Regions from separate parts of the Homo sapiens genome. Here region 2 is linked to region 1. Evidence: fine-mapped expression QTL. Tissue or cell type: regulatory T cells. Region 1 holds a variant in brackets; the other region holds the start of a gene. All regions are shown on one strand. Distances are between the middles of the regions.

The links. PIP is the estimated chance that this variant, and not a neighbour inherited with it, causes the effect.
Region 2: RCCD1 starts here. The variant in region 1 is fine-mapped to the expression of RCCD1 in regulatory T cells (Schmiedel 2018, PIP 0.95).

The regions. Positions count from the first base shown.
Region 1 is chr15:91,038,374-91,046,090 of GRCh38, forward strand. No RefSeq gene overlaps it. Among named protein-coding and RNA genes, the nearest start is that of VPS33B-DT, 20 kb to the left of the region's middle. RefSeq lists an enhancer at 4,944-5,445. The variant C/CA (reference allele first, on the strand shown) is at 4,438.
Region 2 is chr15:90,950,524-90,958,240 of GRCh38, forward strand. It overlaps RCCD1 (RCC1 domain containing 1), which reads left to right and starts at 4,361. Exons shown (of 8, transcript NM_001017919.2): 1 at 4,361-4,425; 2 at 6,089-6,377; 3 at 6,590-6,980; 4 at 7,081-7,202. The coding sequence starts at 6,212. It overlaps UNC45A (unc-45 myosin chaperone A), which reads left to right. Exons shown (of 20, transcript NM_018671.5): 17 at 1-92; 18 at 2,406-2,523; 19 at 2,632-2,787; 20 at 2,936-3,570. The coding sequence ends at 3,193. RCCD1-AS1 (RCCD1 and UNC45A antisense RNA 1) reads right to left here and starts at 3,970. Exons shown (of 2, transcript NR_170325.1): 1 at 3,812-3,970; 2 at 1,715-2,682. RefSeq lists enhancers at 2,718-3,218, 4,043-4,597, 4,398-4,507 and silencers at 4,728-4,857, 6,088-6,317, 6,438-6,487.

The sequences.
Region 1 (7,717 bases):
TCATGGATGGGGCACCTCCCAGTGCTGGGTTTTGTGTGCAGCACTTTGTATCCATTCTCTCTGACCTCCCAACAGCCCACTGAAGGAGACATTACCACCCTCATTTCACAGCGGGGTCAGAGGCCACAGGGAGGTCATGGGGGAGGAGGAGAAGCAGGTACCTCAGTCTGAGGTTTGGACCTCCCCCTCCGACTCTGAGGGCAGTGCTGAGAAGCTCCCTAAGAGGCAGGGACCAGAGCTGGAGGAGTGGAGACTGTCACAGACCCTTCCGGGGCTGCTGTGCCATTGCTGGAACCTTTTCTATGGAGAGTACTAAGTACCTCTACCTGTAGCACTTTCCCTGGCTGGAATCCTGCAATTGTCACAGTGGTCTGAGATCCAAGAAGGCAGGGCAGAAGCATTGTGTCCCCTTCCCAGCAGATGCAAGGGAGGCTGGGGGGTGAGGCACAAGCCCGTGGGAGGGTGAGGGGCAGGATGGGTGCATGGTGAGCCTCTGTTGACTGCTGGCTGCCTCAGCTGGAAGGTCAGGACCCAATGGCTATTACAGGTTACAATTACAGAAGTATTTTGGATTTCGGATTTTTTCAGATTTTGGAATTCGAAAATCTGAAATCGAAAATGCTCCAATGAGCATTTCCTTTGAACCTGGCCTTCGAACATCATGTCGGCACTCAAACAGTTTTGGATTTTGATTTTCAGATGAGGGATGCTGTATTATCTTCTGAATGAGGCCACTCATTTAGGAAAGCCAAGAGTTTGGGGACATGGAGCTGCAGGCCAAAGAGGTGATTTTTGAGGTGCCTTCCAGTGCAGAAGGGCCTACAAAGTGGTTTAAGCCAAGCCACAAAATAGGAAACCCAATATTTAGCTAATGGAACACTGATAAAACCTGCTCAAGATGTCTGTCTCTACTAATTCAGATGGAGCCAAGCCAATGCATTCTTATTATTTTAAAAAGGCACCAGTCCGTCTGCAAAAGCACTGAATTGTATCACGCATCATCAGTGGTGGTTTTTTACGGATATGAAGAAGGGGTTTTCACAATACATCGCACGACACACTATCTTCCAAATCTCTAAACATTTCTCTCCCCAGCCTGATCTTCTCCAGTTGTCCAAATCACTCCCTCTTTTCTCTTGTCTCCAAAACTCAAAACCATGTTCTGACTTTCTGTGTCCTGCCCTCCCCTACTTGGACCACCTGAGAAGGCCCCCGGTTCCCCAGGGTGTCCCCTCCTCCCCTCCTGGGATCCCCCATCTTTCCTCAAATGGACCAGTTTGGCCTCTGTTAGTTTCTCCAACTCTGCATCTCAACCTTTCTCCCTTCACTACAGAATAATGTCCAGGAGGCCAAGAGCCCACAAACCAGGGACCCTCCCTTTCCAGAAGGGAGGAGAGAGGTGACTACAAATATTTGGTTATGATTTTCTTCGCTGCCATGCCTGTTTCCATGGGCAGTGCTGAGCCCCAGTCCTGGCAGAGCTCAGAACCAGGCTTTCAAGAGCTGGGGCAAGTGGGGCCTAGGGAGCCTCTGGGTTGAGGATCTTGCACCCCACTCTGCAGCTGCCCTGTCCCAACCTCTGTCCCTTCCTTCCTGTGCCCCCAGGCCTGCTCTGCCCTGTCCTGCCTCAGCCTGCCCAGGAAGGCCTCTGCTTGAGGCCCCCAGGAGGCTCACCCCAGAGCAGGCATTATGATGGGGACTCCCACATCCCACCTGCAGAGTCTGCCTGGGGCTTTGAACCAGCCAGGAAGCTCATGTGGACAGGGCTGGCCCCGGGCCTAGTGGTGGGGGAGGCAGGTCAAGTCTGAGCCCTCCCCAGTGCTGCCCCCATCCCCAGGCCTGGCTTCCTCTGGCACCCAGTCCTGCAGGTCCCACCCACCCTGTGCTCTGCCAGGTCAGGGGACTGCTGCTATGGCATTAGAGGGTCAGAGCCGCAGAGGGCCCTGGAATTGATTAGCCAAGTCCACCTCCCATGCCTCAGGATGGGGATGTTAAGGCCTAAAGCGAGTCAGGGACCCTCATCCACAAAAGAGCACATAATTTTGGACAGAATGAGCTAGAACCCTGGTCTCTGAACTTCCACGCTAGTGTTTTCCCCATAACACATAGGGATTCCATCATTTCTAGCTGGGCTCATTGGCTCATGCCTGTAATCCAAACACTTTTAGAGGCTGAAGTGGGAGGATTGTTTGAGACCAGGAGCTTGAGACAAGCCTGGGCAGCAGTTTGAGACCCTGTCTCTATAAAACATCAAAAAATTAGCCAGGCGTGGTGGTACACATCTGTAGTCTCAGCTACTTGGGAGGCTGAGGCAGGGGGATTGTTTGAGCCCAGGACTTCGAGGCTGCAGTGAGCTGTGATTGAGCCACTGCAGTCCAGCCTGGGTGACAGAGCAAGACCGTGTCTCTAAAACGATAATAATAGTAATTTCTAAACTATGGAGGTGGGTAAGGGTGGGTATTGTCGAAATTAATGGAATTGAAAGTGTAGATTGTGGGTTCTCCTATGGTTATTTGCATTTTAAGTGGAACATAAAGATCAAAACATCTTGACACACAGGCAAATCCACGGAGACAGAAAGCAGATGAGTGGCAACCGGCGCCTGGGGAAGGTGCGGAATTGGAAGTGACTGCTTCGTGGGTACGGGGTTTCTTTTGGAGGGATGAAGAGGTTCTGCAGTGATTAGTGGTGATGGTTACACAGCACTGTGAGTGTACTTAATGCCGCTGAATCATACACTTGAAAATGGTTGAAGTGGTAAGTTTTATGTTTCATGTATTTCACCACAATTAAAAAAGAAAGCTCCCGGACTCAAATACATAAAACCTGTATAGAAAAAGGTCTCACTGCTGGGAGTCTGTTTTGCTTCTTTCCTTCTCTCTCTGTGCCTCCTTCACCCAGTCTAAGAGGGGAGCTACACGCAGTGTAGAGAGTGACTGAGAATCCACTCCAGGACAGCATCCCAAGAAACAAGACAGAACCAAATGATAAAAGGAGTTGTTTCTGGAAAAACATCCTGGAATAGGGGAGGCAGCACAGGTCAAGCCACAGGGGAGGGTCTGTGACAGCTGCTTTACTCCACGGGGTACCACTGAATGCTCCGGTGGTTCCTGACTTCACATTTTAAAAATTATTTTTATTTATTTATTTTTTTTGAGATGGGGTCTGTTGCCCAGGCTGGAGTGCAGTGGCATGATCTCAGCTCACTGCAATTTCTGCCTCCGGGTTCAAGTGATTCTCCCGCCTCAGCCTCCTGAGTAGCTGGGATTACAGGTGCACGCCACCACGCCCAGCTAATTTTGTATTTTTAGTAGAGATGCTGTTTCGCCATGTTGGCCAGGCTGGTCTTGAGCTCCTGACCTCAAGTGATCCTCCTGTCTCGGCCTCCCAAAGTGCTGGGATTACAGGTGTGAGCCACCTCGCCCGGCCCTGAGTTCACTTTTTTTAAAGACTCCACATATGAGTGAGATCATGGGCTATTTGTCTATGTGTGCCTGGCTTATTTCACTTAACATGGTGTCCTCCAGGTTCATCCATGTGGTTCCAGATGACAGGATTTTGTCCTTTTTATGGCTGAATAGTACTTCATTGCCTATAAGAAATGACCCATGCATAAGGGGATGGATGTGCTACCTCCCTGATTTGATCATTACGAAGCATATCTGTATTGAAACATCAAATTGTACCCTATGTACACTTTGTACATACAATATGTACACTTTGTACATATTGTATGTACAATTTGTACATACAGTAGGTACAAATTGTACATACAGTAGGTACAATTTGTACATACAATATGTACAATGACAATGTGTCCCTTTTAAAAAACTGGCTCGCAGTAGAGACCAGTAAAGGCTTTCGCAGCTCCAAGGGAGATCACAGACTGTGGAGCAGGCTGGGGGCTCCAGGGCCTGGGCCCCTGGCACTCACCACTGTACTTTCCAGGCACAACCCTCCCTCTCTTTAAGGTCAGGCATTCCCCCTCCCCTTCCTGAAGGTCCTGCTTCAAGCCTGCCTCCTCCTTCCTCACCCAAACCACTCGCTGTGTTTTCACCCCTTATCAGAAAATTACTTAGGCCATGAAGCTCTGTATACATTTACCAGCTTTCTGAAAAGGCTTTCATATCAGGCAGTTTCCCACGGGGTTGGAGTCTCAACGCATTGAAATGGTAAATTATGCTGGGTGCAGTGGTTCATGCCTGTAATCCCAGCACTTTGGGAGGCCAAGGTCAGGAGTTCGAGACCAGCCTGGCCAACATGGTGAAACTGCATCTCTATGAAAAATACAAAAATTAGCCAGGCATGGTGCGCACCTGTAATCCCAGCTACTCGGGAGGCTGAGGCAGAATTGCTTGAACTGAGGAGGTGGAGGTTGCCCTGAGCCGAGATCATGCCACCGCACTGCAGCCTGGGTGACAGAGCAAGGCTTCTTCT[C/CA]AAAAAAAAAAAAAAAAAGAAAAAAAAAGAAAATAAAAAAATTAAAAAGAAATGGTAAATTATGTTTTCTTTACTCCCTTTACTGAACTCCTTGTAGGGCCTAGCACTGTATTCTGCACACTTGAGTCCATCGTCCAGCAGATGCTGGTCCTTCATCTGGTCTGGGGCTCTGAGCACTCGCCCCACAGTGCTGACCCGGCGGTGCTCACCGGGGTGGGAGGGAGTTGGCGCTACTCTCCTTGGAGTGCTCTTGTAGGTATGTCTTAGATCTGTGGTCTGAGGCATGTTAGGAGCCTAGAATAATTTCCCAAGGGGAAGAACTGAAAGTCCCCACGAGAGAACAGAGCTTGCCCATCTACTGAAGAACAGTCCTCCAGGGTCCTCTCCTGATCCTGCTCAGCTGCGAACTCCCTCCTCGCCCACCCCTCCTGTTCCTCTTCCTCCTCCTCCTCCTCAGCTCTCAAGGTTTAACCATCAGGTTAAACATAGTCCCCACAGGGTGAACCCAAATGAACACCCAGCGCTGTCAGGCACGGACTGTTGCATGGATAGGCTCACGGCAACCCTTCAACCTACACATAGGGCAGCCTTATCCCAAGCATGCGCATTGTAAACGCACACTTCCCAGGGGCGGACAGGGAGCCTGGATTCCCGGCTCAGCTTAGCTGGTGATCAAGGTATAACCTTAGTCCCTCCTCTCTCCAGGCCTCAGTTTTCTGGCTGTATAATGAGAGTACTGGACTTAATGAACCTGGGTTTCCTTTCAGCTGGCGTGTCCATGTTCACAAAGTTGTTCTTGGTGTCACTCAAGCAGCTGCTCCTGCCTCCCCAGCCCTGCTCACACACATGCCCATAACCACATACATGTGGTTAGAGTGGGAATGAGGAGGTGTGGGAGGGCAGCCCCTTCAGAAACTGCTGGCCCTGCTGGTGTTGCCACCCAGAGGTCCTGGACACAAAGCCCTCCATGGACCCCCTTAGGCTTGCCTGGCAACAGACAGGGACCTGTTGCCCAGACACATGCTTCTGCCTGGTGCCCCTCAGCTGACCGCAGGGAAGCTTTGGAAATACCCCACAGAAAGGAAGCCACTAGATCCCATTCTCCTCAAGTCTATCTGGGGAGAGGGGAACGCAGAGTGAGAGGGCTCATTTTCTGGCTACATTAGCTGTTAGCCGTTAGCTCCGGAGGTCTGGGCCGGGAAGTCCTGGGCAGCGCAGGGAGCGGCAGGTGAGCATCTGCTTCACCCCAGAGGCTGCTCCTGGCTTTGCCAGACCTGACCTCAGAGGATTTGGTCACATGGGGGTGTTGTATCCCTGAGACTCACAGAGACACGCAAAACACCAAGTGGGGGGTGGGGGTGAGGCCTACAGAGGGGAAGGAACTTGCTGAGGCCTCCACAGTGAAGAGGGCACCTCCAGCGCCTGGCCTCCAGAAGGTCCTCAGGCCTGAGCTCCCCTGTAGCACCAACACAAGGCAGTGCTGGGCCACTACCCCCTGCCCTTCCCCCCTTCCCTAAGGTGCGGCTAATAGGTCAACTGTCCTGGTCCAGGGATATTTTTAGCCAGCAACATTTTGCTCTGAAGGTGGCTTTCCTGTGGCTGCAGGAACAAATTGAAACAACTGGTTGGCTTAAAATGCCAGAAATTTGCTCACAGTTCTAGAGGCCAGAAGTCTGACATCAAGGTGCTGGTAGGGCCACGTTTCCTCGAAATGCTCTATGGCAGAGTCCCTCCTTGCCTCTTCCAGTTCGTGCAGGCCTCAGACATTCCTTGGCTCACAGCTGCATCACTCCCACCTCTGCCTCTGTCTTCAGGGGTCTTTTTTTCTGTCTCCTATAAAGACACTTACTGGATTCAGGCCCCACTCAGATGATCTCATCTTGAGATCCTTGATTACATCTACAATAATGGCAGATTCACAGGGTATCGGGGTTAGGAAATGGACATATCTTTTTGGGGGCCACCGTTCAACTCATAACATATACCACTGCATTACCGCGTGCCCCTACATTGTCAGCCATACTCTGTTGTTTGTTCCTGCTTTGTAGTAACAATAACAGCAACAGCAATACTAACAGATAACATTAATTGAGTGCTTACTACGTGCCAGGCACCATGATAAGCCCTTAACATATTAACTCATTTAATTGTCACCACAACCATGTGAGGTGGTTCCTATTCTCTCCAAACTACAGTTGAGGAGATGAGAGTCAGAGAGGAACATGTTGATCACAGGTGAATAGAGAACCAACTCCTGGGATCCCAGAGTTCAGAGTGGACAGAGACAAAGGTAAGAGACAGGGGACCTGCCCCTGGGTTTGGAGAGCAGGAGGACCAAGGAAGATGGTGGAGGAACTCAGGCCAGCACCACTCCACCCCTTTCAGCTGTGTCACCCCAGGCTGGAGCCATGCGTCACACACCATGAGGACACTGGGGCTACAACTGACACATGTTCCTGCCACGTGGTGCTAAGAATCTTGGGAGAGAGAGATGGAAACCAAACAGTTGCATAAATTAATGTAAAATTGCAAATGGAATGCAGAGCACAAGGTTGTCTGTAAAAACTCAGGCCAAGGAAGAGCTTCCTGAGACAGAAACGTCCAAGCTCAGAAGTAACCAGGCAGGAGAGGAAGGGAGGAGTGTTTTGGGCAAAGACTTTGCATCTGCAAAGACTGTGTGGCCAGAGGAGGCATGAAGAGTTTGAGGAGTTGAAAGAAGGCCTGAGTGGCTGCAACTCAAAAGAGGCTTCCTAGGTGGTGAGGAGGTGAGGGGTGGAGCCAACCATGTCAGGCTCTGAGTGTCCAAGAGTGGTAAGAAGCCAGATTTTAGAGGAAAAAACAGGTCCCTGGGGAGACAGAAAATGCTTTCTATTCCTCCTGGACACAAAGAAACAAAGCACAAGTTACATCCTTAGCAGGTGCTCACTTCTCTGGTCCTGGATGGGACACGCTGCTCCACTGCGAAGAGCTCAATCTGGCCCTGCCTGTGCAGCACAATGGGGCAAAGCAAGGCTTAAGCCCGGGAAAGGCTGGGATGGGCTCCTTAGGCTAAATCACAGGTGCTTTATTTGTTTGTTTGTTTGTTTGTTTTTTTAGCCATTCTTTTTATTATTATTATTATACTTTAAGTTCTAGGGTCCAGGTGCACAACGTGCAGGTTTGTTACATATGTATACATGCACCATGTTGGTGTGCTTCATCCATTAACTCATCATTTACATTAGGTATATCTCCTAATGCTATCCCTCCCTGCCCTCCCCACCCCACAACAGGCCCTGGT
Region 2 (7,717 bases), 88 kb before region 1:
GTCTCCCTGTTGCACCTCAACTGCTCAGGCCTGCAGAACTTCGAGGCGCTCATGGCCCTAACAAACCTGGCTGGGATCAGCGAGAGGCTCCGGTAAGGTCCCTTGGGATTGCGGGGCCTGGACCAGGCATCGGGATTCGGAATATCCCCCACAGCAGTTTACACATTGGGAAACACTCCTTGGTCATGGGCTTCTGTGAGCCTCACAGTGACTGCTCCGCATCATTAGAGAGGAGGCGACAGGCCAAGAGGCAGCACGGCACGGCAGACTCTAGAGTCAGACTGCCTCGCTTCCCTGATTGCAAATGGGCAACCTCAAGCAAGTTACTTAACTGCTCTGTCTCAGTTTCTCCCTCTGTGAAATGGGATGATTATAGTACCTACCTCATGGCATAGTGATGAGGAGAATAAAATGAGAAAATACACCTAAAAGTACTTACTACATGGGTACCTGGCCCCTAGCATTGTGCCATATCAGTATATTTTAGTTTTTTTTTTTCTTTGAGACGGAGTCTTGCTCTGTCACCCAGCCTAGAGGGCAGTGGCATGATCTCAGCTCACCGCAACCTCTGCCTCCCAGGTTCAAGCGATTCTCCTGCCTCAGCCTCCTGAGTAGCTGGGATTATAGGCACGTGCTACCGCGCCTGGCTAATTTTTGTATTTTTGTAGAGATGGCGCTTTACCATGTTGGTCAGGCTGGTCTAGATCTCCTGACCTCGTGATCCGCCCACCTCAGCCTCCCAAAGTGCTGGGATTACAGGTGTGAGCCACTGCAGCTGGCCAGCATGTTTTAGTTTTATTACTAACTGTGACTTTGAACATATTACTCATTACTTAGCCCGTTTCCTATTCTGCAAAACAGTAGTGATGATGATCACACTTGCACCTTTAGTATAGGGCCATGGTGAGAATTAAGTAAGATGATCCAGGTGCCTGGTCAGGGTAAATACTCAAATGAGGCCGGGCGTGGTGGCTCACACCTGTAATCCTGGCAATTTGGGAGGATGAGGCAGGAGGATCACTGGAGCCCAGAAGTTCAGGCCAGCCTGAGCAGTGTAGCAATACCTCGTCCCTATTTAAAAAAGAAATTAAAGAGAATATCAGGAAGAATAGCTAATGCATGCTGGGCTTAATACCTGGGTGATGGGATGATCTGTGCGGTAAACCACAACGGCACATGGTTACCTGTGTAACAAACCTGCACGTCCTGCACATGTACCCCTGAACTTAACAGTTGGAAAAAAAATTTGCAAGGTGTGGTGGCGTGCACCTGTAGTCCCAGCTACTCGAGAGGCTGAGGCAGGAGGATCACTTGAGCCTGGGGGGGTCAAGGCTACAGCAGTGAGCTGTGATCATGCCACTTTACTCCAGCCTAGGTGACAGAGTGAGATCCTGCCTCAAAAAAACACAGAAACAAAAACCCTCAAATGTTAGGTGTTAGCCTCACCATCACGACCACCCTGGTCTTCTACATCCTAATTTTGAGCATTTCCCACAATCCTATGCTATTTCCTAGGCCTGGTTAGAAGGCTAAGAAGCACTGTAGTTCATACCTGGTGCAAGAGGGTCCTTGGACATTGCCAAGGGAAATCCTCAGCCCAGGACTTGATTGCATGAGGGTGTGGGTGCAGGGGTGGAGCAGATGTAGAAACTCTGATGATGCTGCCGGTGTTAGTCTGTTCTTGCATTGCTGTAAAGGAATACCTGAGACTGGGTAATTTATAAAGAAAAGAGATTTAATTGCTTCCTGGCTCTACAGGCTGTGTAAGCATGGCATTGGCATTTGCTCAGCTTCTGGGGAGGCCTCAGAGAGCTTTTACTCATAGTAGAAGGCAAAGCAGGAGCAGGCACATCACATGGTGAAAGTAGGAGCAAGAGACAGTCGGGGGAGGTGCCACACACTTTTTTTTTTTTTGAAATGGAGTCTCCCTCTGTTGCCCAGGCTGGAGTGCAGTGGCGCAATCTTGGCTCACTGCAACCTTCACCTCCTGGGTTCAATCGCTTCTCCTGCCTCAGCCTCCCTGAGTAGCTGGGACTACAGGCGCGCACCAGCATACCCAGCTAATTTTTTTTTGTCTTTTTAGTAGAGACAAGGTTTCACCATGTTGGCCAGGCTGGTCTCGAACTCTTGACCTCAAGTCATCTGCCTGCCTCGGCCTTCCAGAGTGCTGGGATTACAGGCGTGAGCCTCCACGCCCGGCCGAGATGCCACGCACTTTTAAATAACCAGATCTCACGAGAACTTACTATCACGAGGATAGCACCAAGCCATGAGGGACCCATCCCATGACCCAGTCACCTCCCACCAGGCCCTACCTCCAACATTGGGGATTATAGTTCAACATGAGGGTTAGAAGGGAAAACATCCAAACCGTATCCCTGCTGCTTCCTCCTGTGGCCCTGCAGGCAGAAGATCCTGAAGGAGAAGGCTGTGCCCATGATAGAAGGCTACATGTTTGAGGAGCATGAGATGATCCGCCGGGCAGCCACGGAGTGCATGTGTAACTTGGCCATGAGCAAGGAGGTGAGGGTTGGTCTGGGTGCTCATGACAGGCGGGGATGCAGAGGTACCTGTGCCCTGGCTGGGCTTTACACCCAACTGACTTGGTCCACTCCTCACATCTGGCCACAGGTGCAGGACCTCTTCGAAGCCCAGGGCAATGACCGACTGAAGCTGCTGGTGCTGTACAGTGGAGAGGATGATGAGCTGCTACAGCGGGCAGCTGCCGGGGGCTTGGCCATGCTTACCTCCATGCGGCCCACGCTCTGCAGCCGCATTCCCCAAGTGGTCAGTGCCTCTTCTCAGTGGGGGAGGAGGGACGGACCAGGAACTCCCAGCAGCAGCTGAAGGGGGCAGTCCTAGGGTGTGTGGGTGTGTCCCTTGCCAAGGTTGAGCCTGTTGCCCAGGGGTCATATCTACCCTGTTTTTCTCACAGACCACACACTGGCTGGAGATCCTGCAGGCCCTGCTTCTGAGCTCCAACCAGGAGCTGCAGCACCGGGGTGCTGTGGTGGTGCTGAACATGGTGGAGGCCTCGAGGGAGATTGCCAGCACCCTGATGGAGAGTGAGATGATGGAGATCTTGTCAGTGCTAGCTAAGGGTGACCACAGCCCTGTCACAAGGGCTGCTGCAGCCTGCCTGGACAAAGCAGTGGAATATGGGCTTATCCAACCCAACCAAGATGGAGAGTGAGGGGGTTGTCCCTGGGCCCAAGGCTCATGCACACGCTACCTATTGTGGCACGGAGAGTAAGGACGGAAGCAGCTTTGGCTGGTGGTGGCTGGCATGCCCAATACTCTTGCCCATCCTCGCTTGCTGCCCTAGGATGTCCTCTGTTCTGAGTCAGCGGCCACGTTCAGTCACACAGCCCTGCTTGGCCAGCACTGCCTGCAGCCTCACTCAGAGGGGCCCTTTTTCTGTACTACTGTAGTCAGCTGGGAATGGGGAAGGTGCATCCCAACACAGCCTGTGGATCCTGGGGCATCTGGAAGGGCGCACACATCAGCAGCCTCACCAGCTGTGAGCCTGCTATCAGGCCTGCCCCTCCAATAAAAGTGTGTAGAACTCCACTGTGTGCCCTGTCCTTGGGCAGGGAGGGCTGCTGTGAGTGGGAGTCTCTGAGTGGGTGAGTGTGGGTGAGTATGGGTGTGAGCTGGGCGTGGGTGAGTGTGCAACGGAGCTTCACAGTGGCAGACCCACCTCCATGGAAGGAATCCAATGGATTCCCCAACCAGGGCCCACTGAGTTGCTTCTTAATCCTACTGGAGGGACAAAGGGTAAGCCTAGGAAGCTAATCAATAAGAAACTCACCAGGTGCGGTGCCTCAAGCTTGTAATCCCAGCGCTTTGGGAGGCTGAGGCAGGTGGATCACTTGAAGTCAGGGGTTCGAGACCAGCCTGGGCAACAAGCAAAACTCTTTCTCTATAAAAATACCAAAAAAAAAAAAAAAAAAAAAAAAAGAGCAGAGTGTGGCGGCATGCACCTGTAATCCCAGCTACTCGGTAGGCGAAGGTTGCAGTGAGCCCAGAGCGCAGCCTCCCAAAGTGTCGCCTGGGCGACACAGCGAGACCCTATCTCAAAAAATATTAAACTATCCCAAGAAATAAGTCGTTTAGGGTAGAGACTCCCATATGCTGGGCCTTCAGTACGTTTGTCTTTATATTGGGAGTCCTCTGTGGCCTCCGCTGAGGGCGCTGGGGCGGGGGTTGGGGTTGGTGGCCAGCTGAGCCTGGTTGAAGGGCGGCTTGGGCCCCGCCCACCACCCCAGCACGTTCGAGGAGGGCTAAGCCCAGCGTGAGGCTCGTTGGCTCGACAGAGGCACGTGACGGGTCCTGAGCCAATCCGTGGAAGGTAAAAGCTGCTTCCTGTTGGGGCATGAGTCCGGCGCGTGTCGGGTTTTGAGCTGCCGCGGTCCCGGGACTGAGGTGGGTGGCGGGGTCCGCCCGTCTTGGGCGTCACTCCTCGCCAAACCTTTAGCTCAAGTCTTAATGAATGTCCTCTCTGTGGTTCTAATCCGAGCTCCAGCCCCACGGGTTCCTGCAGGGGCGGGACCACCTGGCCCAACCTCTGCCTTGGTCCAACGCCCCCGGTTTCCTCCAGGGCCTTGGTCCAACGCCCCTCGGAGGTTTCAGCCCATTTCACAGACCGGGCCGCAGGGCCCCGGCGTAGGCCTCGGGACCGGAGAGGCCCTCAAGGGGAGTTGAACAGGGCTGCGGCCGCCGCGCCCCGGGCGGCGACGTCACCGCCCTTGCTGGTGATTGGCCGCCTCGCGCCGCGCGCCCTTCAAACCTTTTCTCCCCGTGGCTGTCGGCGCCCGCTGGGCGGGAGGCCTTTCCGGAGGCGGCCGCTCTGCGCCTCGGCGTTTCCTCCAAGGCTGCCCACCAGAAGGACCTGCCCGAGAGGGTAGAGGGCATAGGGTCAAGATCAAGGTCAGAGGCCCCCTTGGGTTGGGAGAGGACACGGAAGGGGTTAGGAGCCCAGGAACTGGGGTCTCAGGAGAGACCCAGGATCTGACTTAAGAGGCCTGAAAATGCCCATGCAATTCTGCTTCAGCCCGGGTGCAGCGGCTCACGCCTGTAATCCCAACGCTTTGGGAGGCCGAGGCGGGCGGATCACTCGAGCCCAGGAATTTGAGACCAGCCTGGGCAGCATAGCGAGACCCCTGTCTCTATTATATTAAAAAAAAAAAAAAACAAACCCGCTCCAGCCGAATCTGCTTGAAGTTGGCGTTGCTGTTGTAACCACCAGACTGTTTGTCTCCCCATTTAACGGTTAGCTCCTTGGGAGCAGACAGCTGTCCTCACTGGCAGAGGAGGAGCGCTCAGTAAATGCTCGCTGGACGAATAAATGGCTAGATAAGGTACAGTTGAAATTCTGTCTGTATAAGTTTCTCAAAACCAGTAAGATGTCCAGGGATAATTTTTTTGTCAACACTAAATACTGGATTCAGTAAGCTAATACTGTGTGTTTATCATGGCATGTACTCGCACCAAACCCTTTATTTGCATTTATTACAATTCTGTGAGGAAGGTTCAAACAGCACCGCCCCCACCTCCCTTTGTAAACTGAAGAAACGCAGTTGGACTCAGGTGGATTGGCTGCGGTCCCAAGGCCCCGCTGAGTTGCAGAGGCACTGCCTCCCAAACGCTCTTCTGCGTTCCGCTGTGGGGAGAGGGGCAGAGCACTGTGTGTGGAGTTGGTGGGACCTGATTTCAGCGCTCTGCCCCTCTCTGTCTGGCTGTATGAGTGTGTAAGGGTTACTTTGTCTCAGAATCTCCTCTGTAAAACGACCATTTTGGTTCCCAAGATTACATGGGATAAAGTGCCAGATGCTGGGAAGCTGCGGGACGGGGTGGGGGTGTCGGGGGCGCTCGGATCCTAGTCCAATGCCTAAAGGACAGGCCACTTCGTACCCACTTTGTGGCACGCTGAGCTTGAGCCAAAAGGGAGGACAGGGAAAGTGCCTCTAAATATTTGAGCATCTTTGTAAATCCGGTAGGGCATTAGTCAGGGCGCCTGCTCAGCGAACCTTCGTGGCACGGACTCTGCCTTTGTGGTCGGGAGAATGATAGTTTCTCCATTTTACAGATAAGGCAGCTCCAGCCCCTGGAAGGCCAGAGACTTGCCAGTGTCCCACTAGCGGGCTCTTCGCAAGAATCCCCCCGGGCCCGCCGCAGCCAGGCGGCGGCCGGCAGAGGGCGCTGCTCGGGCATGGCGGAGGAGCGGCCGGGGGCCTGGTTCGGCTTCGGTTTCTGCGGCTTCGGGCAGGAGCTGGGCTCCGGACGCGGGCGCCAGGTGCACAGCCCCAGTCCGCTGCGGGCGGGCGTCGACATCTGCCGCGTGAGCGCGAGCTGGAGCTACACCGCTTTCGTGACCCGTGAGCACTCCCCGCCCCGTCCCCACTTATTCCAGCCGCGCTCCCCAGTCGCCTCCCCGCACCGCTGTGGCCAGTCCAGTTTGTCTCCCCCGTTCAGGCCGCCAGCCCCACATTCTGGGTTGGTCCCCAATTCGACCCCTTCCCAGGAACACCCCGCTCCCCCCATCCCCGCCGCCTCCATTCTGGCCACCCTGCTCCAATCCGCCCCGCAGGTGGAGGCCGCTTGGAGCTGTCGGGCTCAGCCAGCGGCGCGGCGGGCCGCTGCAAGGACGCGTGGGCCTCGGAGGGGCTCCTCGCGGTGCTGCGCGCCGGGCCGGGGCCGGAGGCGTTACTGCAGGTCTGGGCGGCCGAATCGGCGCTGCGTGGGGAGCCATTGTGGGCCCAGAATGTGGTGCCCGAGGCCGAAGGGGAAGACGATCCGGCCGGTGAGGCCCAGGCTGGGAGGCTACCCCTGCTGCCCTGCGCCCGTGCCTACGTGAGCCCGCGGGCGCCCTTCTACCGGCCTCTGGCTCCGGAGCTGCGGGCACGCCAGCTGGAGCTGGGCGCCGAGCACGCGTTGCTGCTGGACGCTGCTGGCCAGGTGTTCTCCTGGGGCGGGGGCAGGTGAGCGGAGGCGGGGGCAGGTGAGGGCTGCTGATTGGAGAAGCAAGCGGAGCGGGACCCCTTAATGCGACTGTAGCTGACGACGGTCTCCCTTGCTCAGGCATGGACAGCTGGGCCATGGGACCCTGGAGGCAGAGCTGGAGCCACGGCTGTTGGAGGCGTTGCAGGGCCTAGTCATGGCTGAGGTGGCCGCGGGGGGCTGGCATTCTGTGTGTGTGAGTGGTGAGTGACTTAGTGCTTCTCCAGACGAGCTCATGATCTTGTGCAAACCTTCCTCCTCGTTTTCCAGTTTGGGTGGGGGCCTACCCAGGCCTCCTTCCAAATTCATCCATCCATCGCCCAGTCAGTTATGACTCCTAAATGCCTCTCACCCTCGGCCTCCTCTGCCTGCACCATGGCCCACTCACGCCTGGACTCTGGCATTTGTTCCTAGCTTCTCTGTTACTGGTCTCACTGCCCCTCCCCTCCTCTCCCCACCTGCTCCCAGCCAGGACTGTCTCTTAACAGTGCTGCCGAGGGAGTATGGAGTGTGAGGGGGCAGCTGAGCCAAGGAAAACGCAGAAACGCTGCAGTTGCCTAGGGGGCCATGATGTGTGGCACAGGGTGGACACTGGGGTGCCCACCAGGCACCAGGATGGTGATGAGTGTGTCCCTGTGGTGGTGCCACAGCTGGCCAGAGTGAGGAGTTTCACTTGGTGATCCAGGTGTAGCTCCTTCCTAGGCTGTTAGAGCCCATG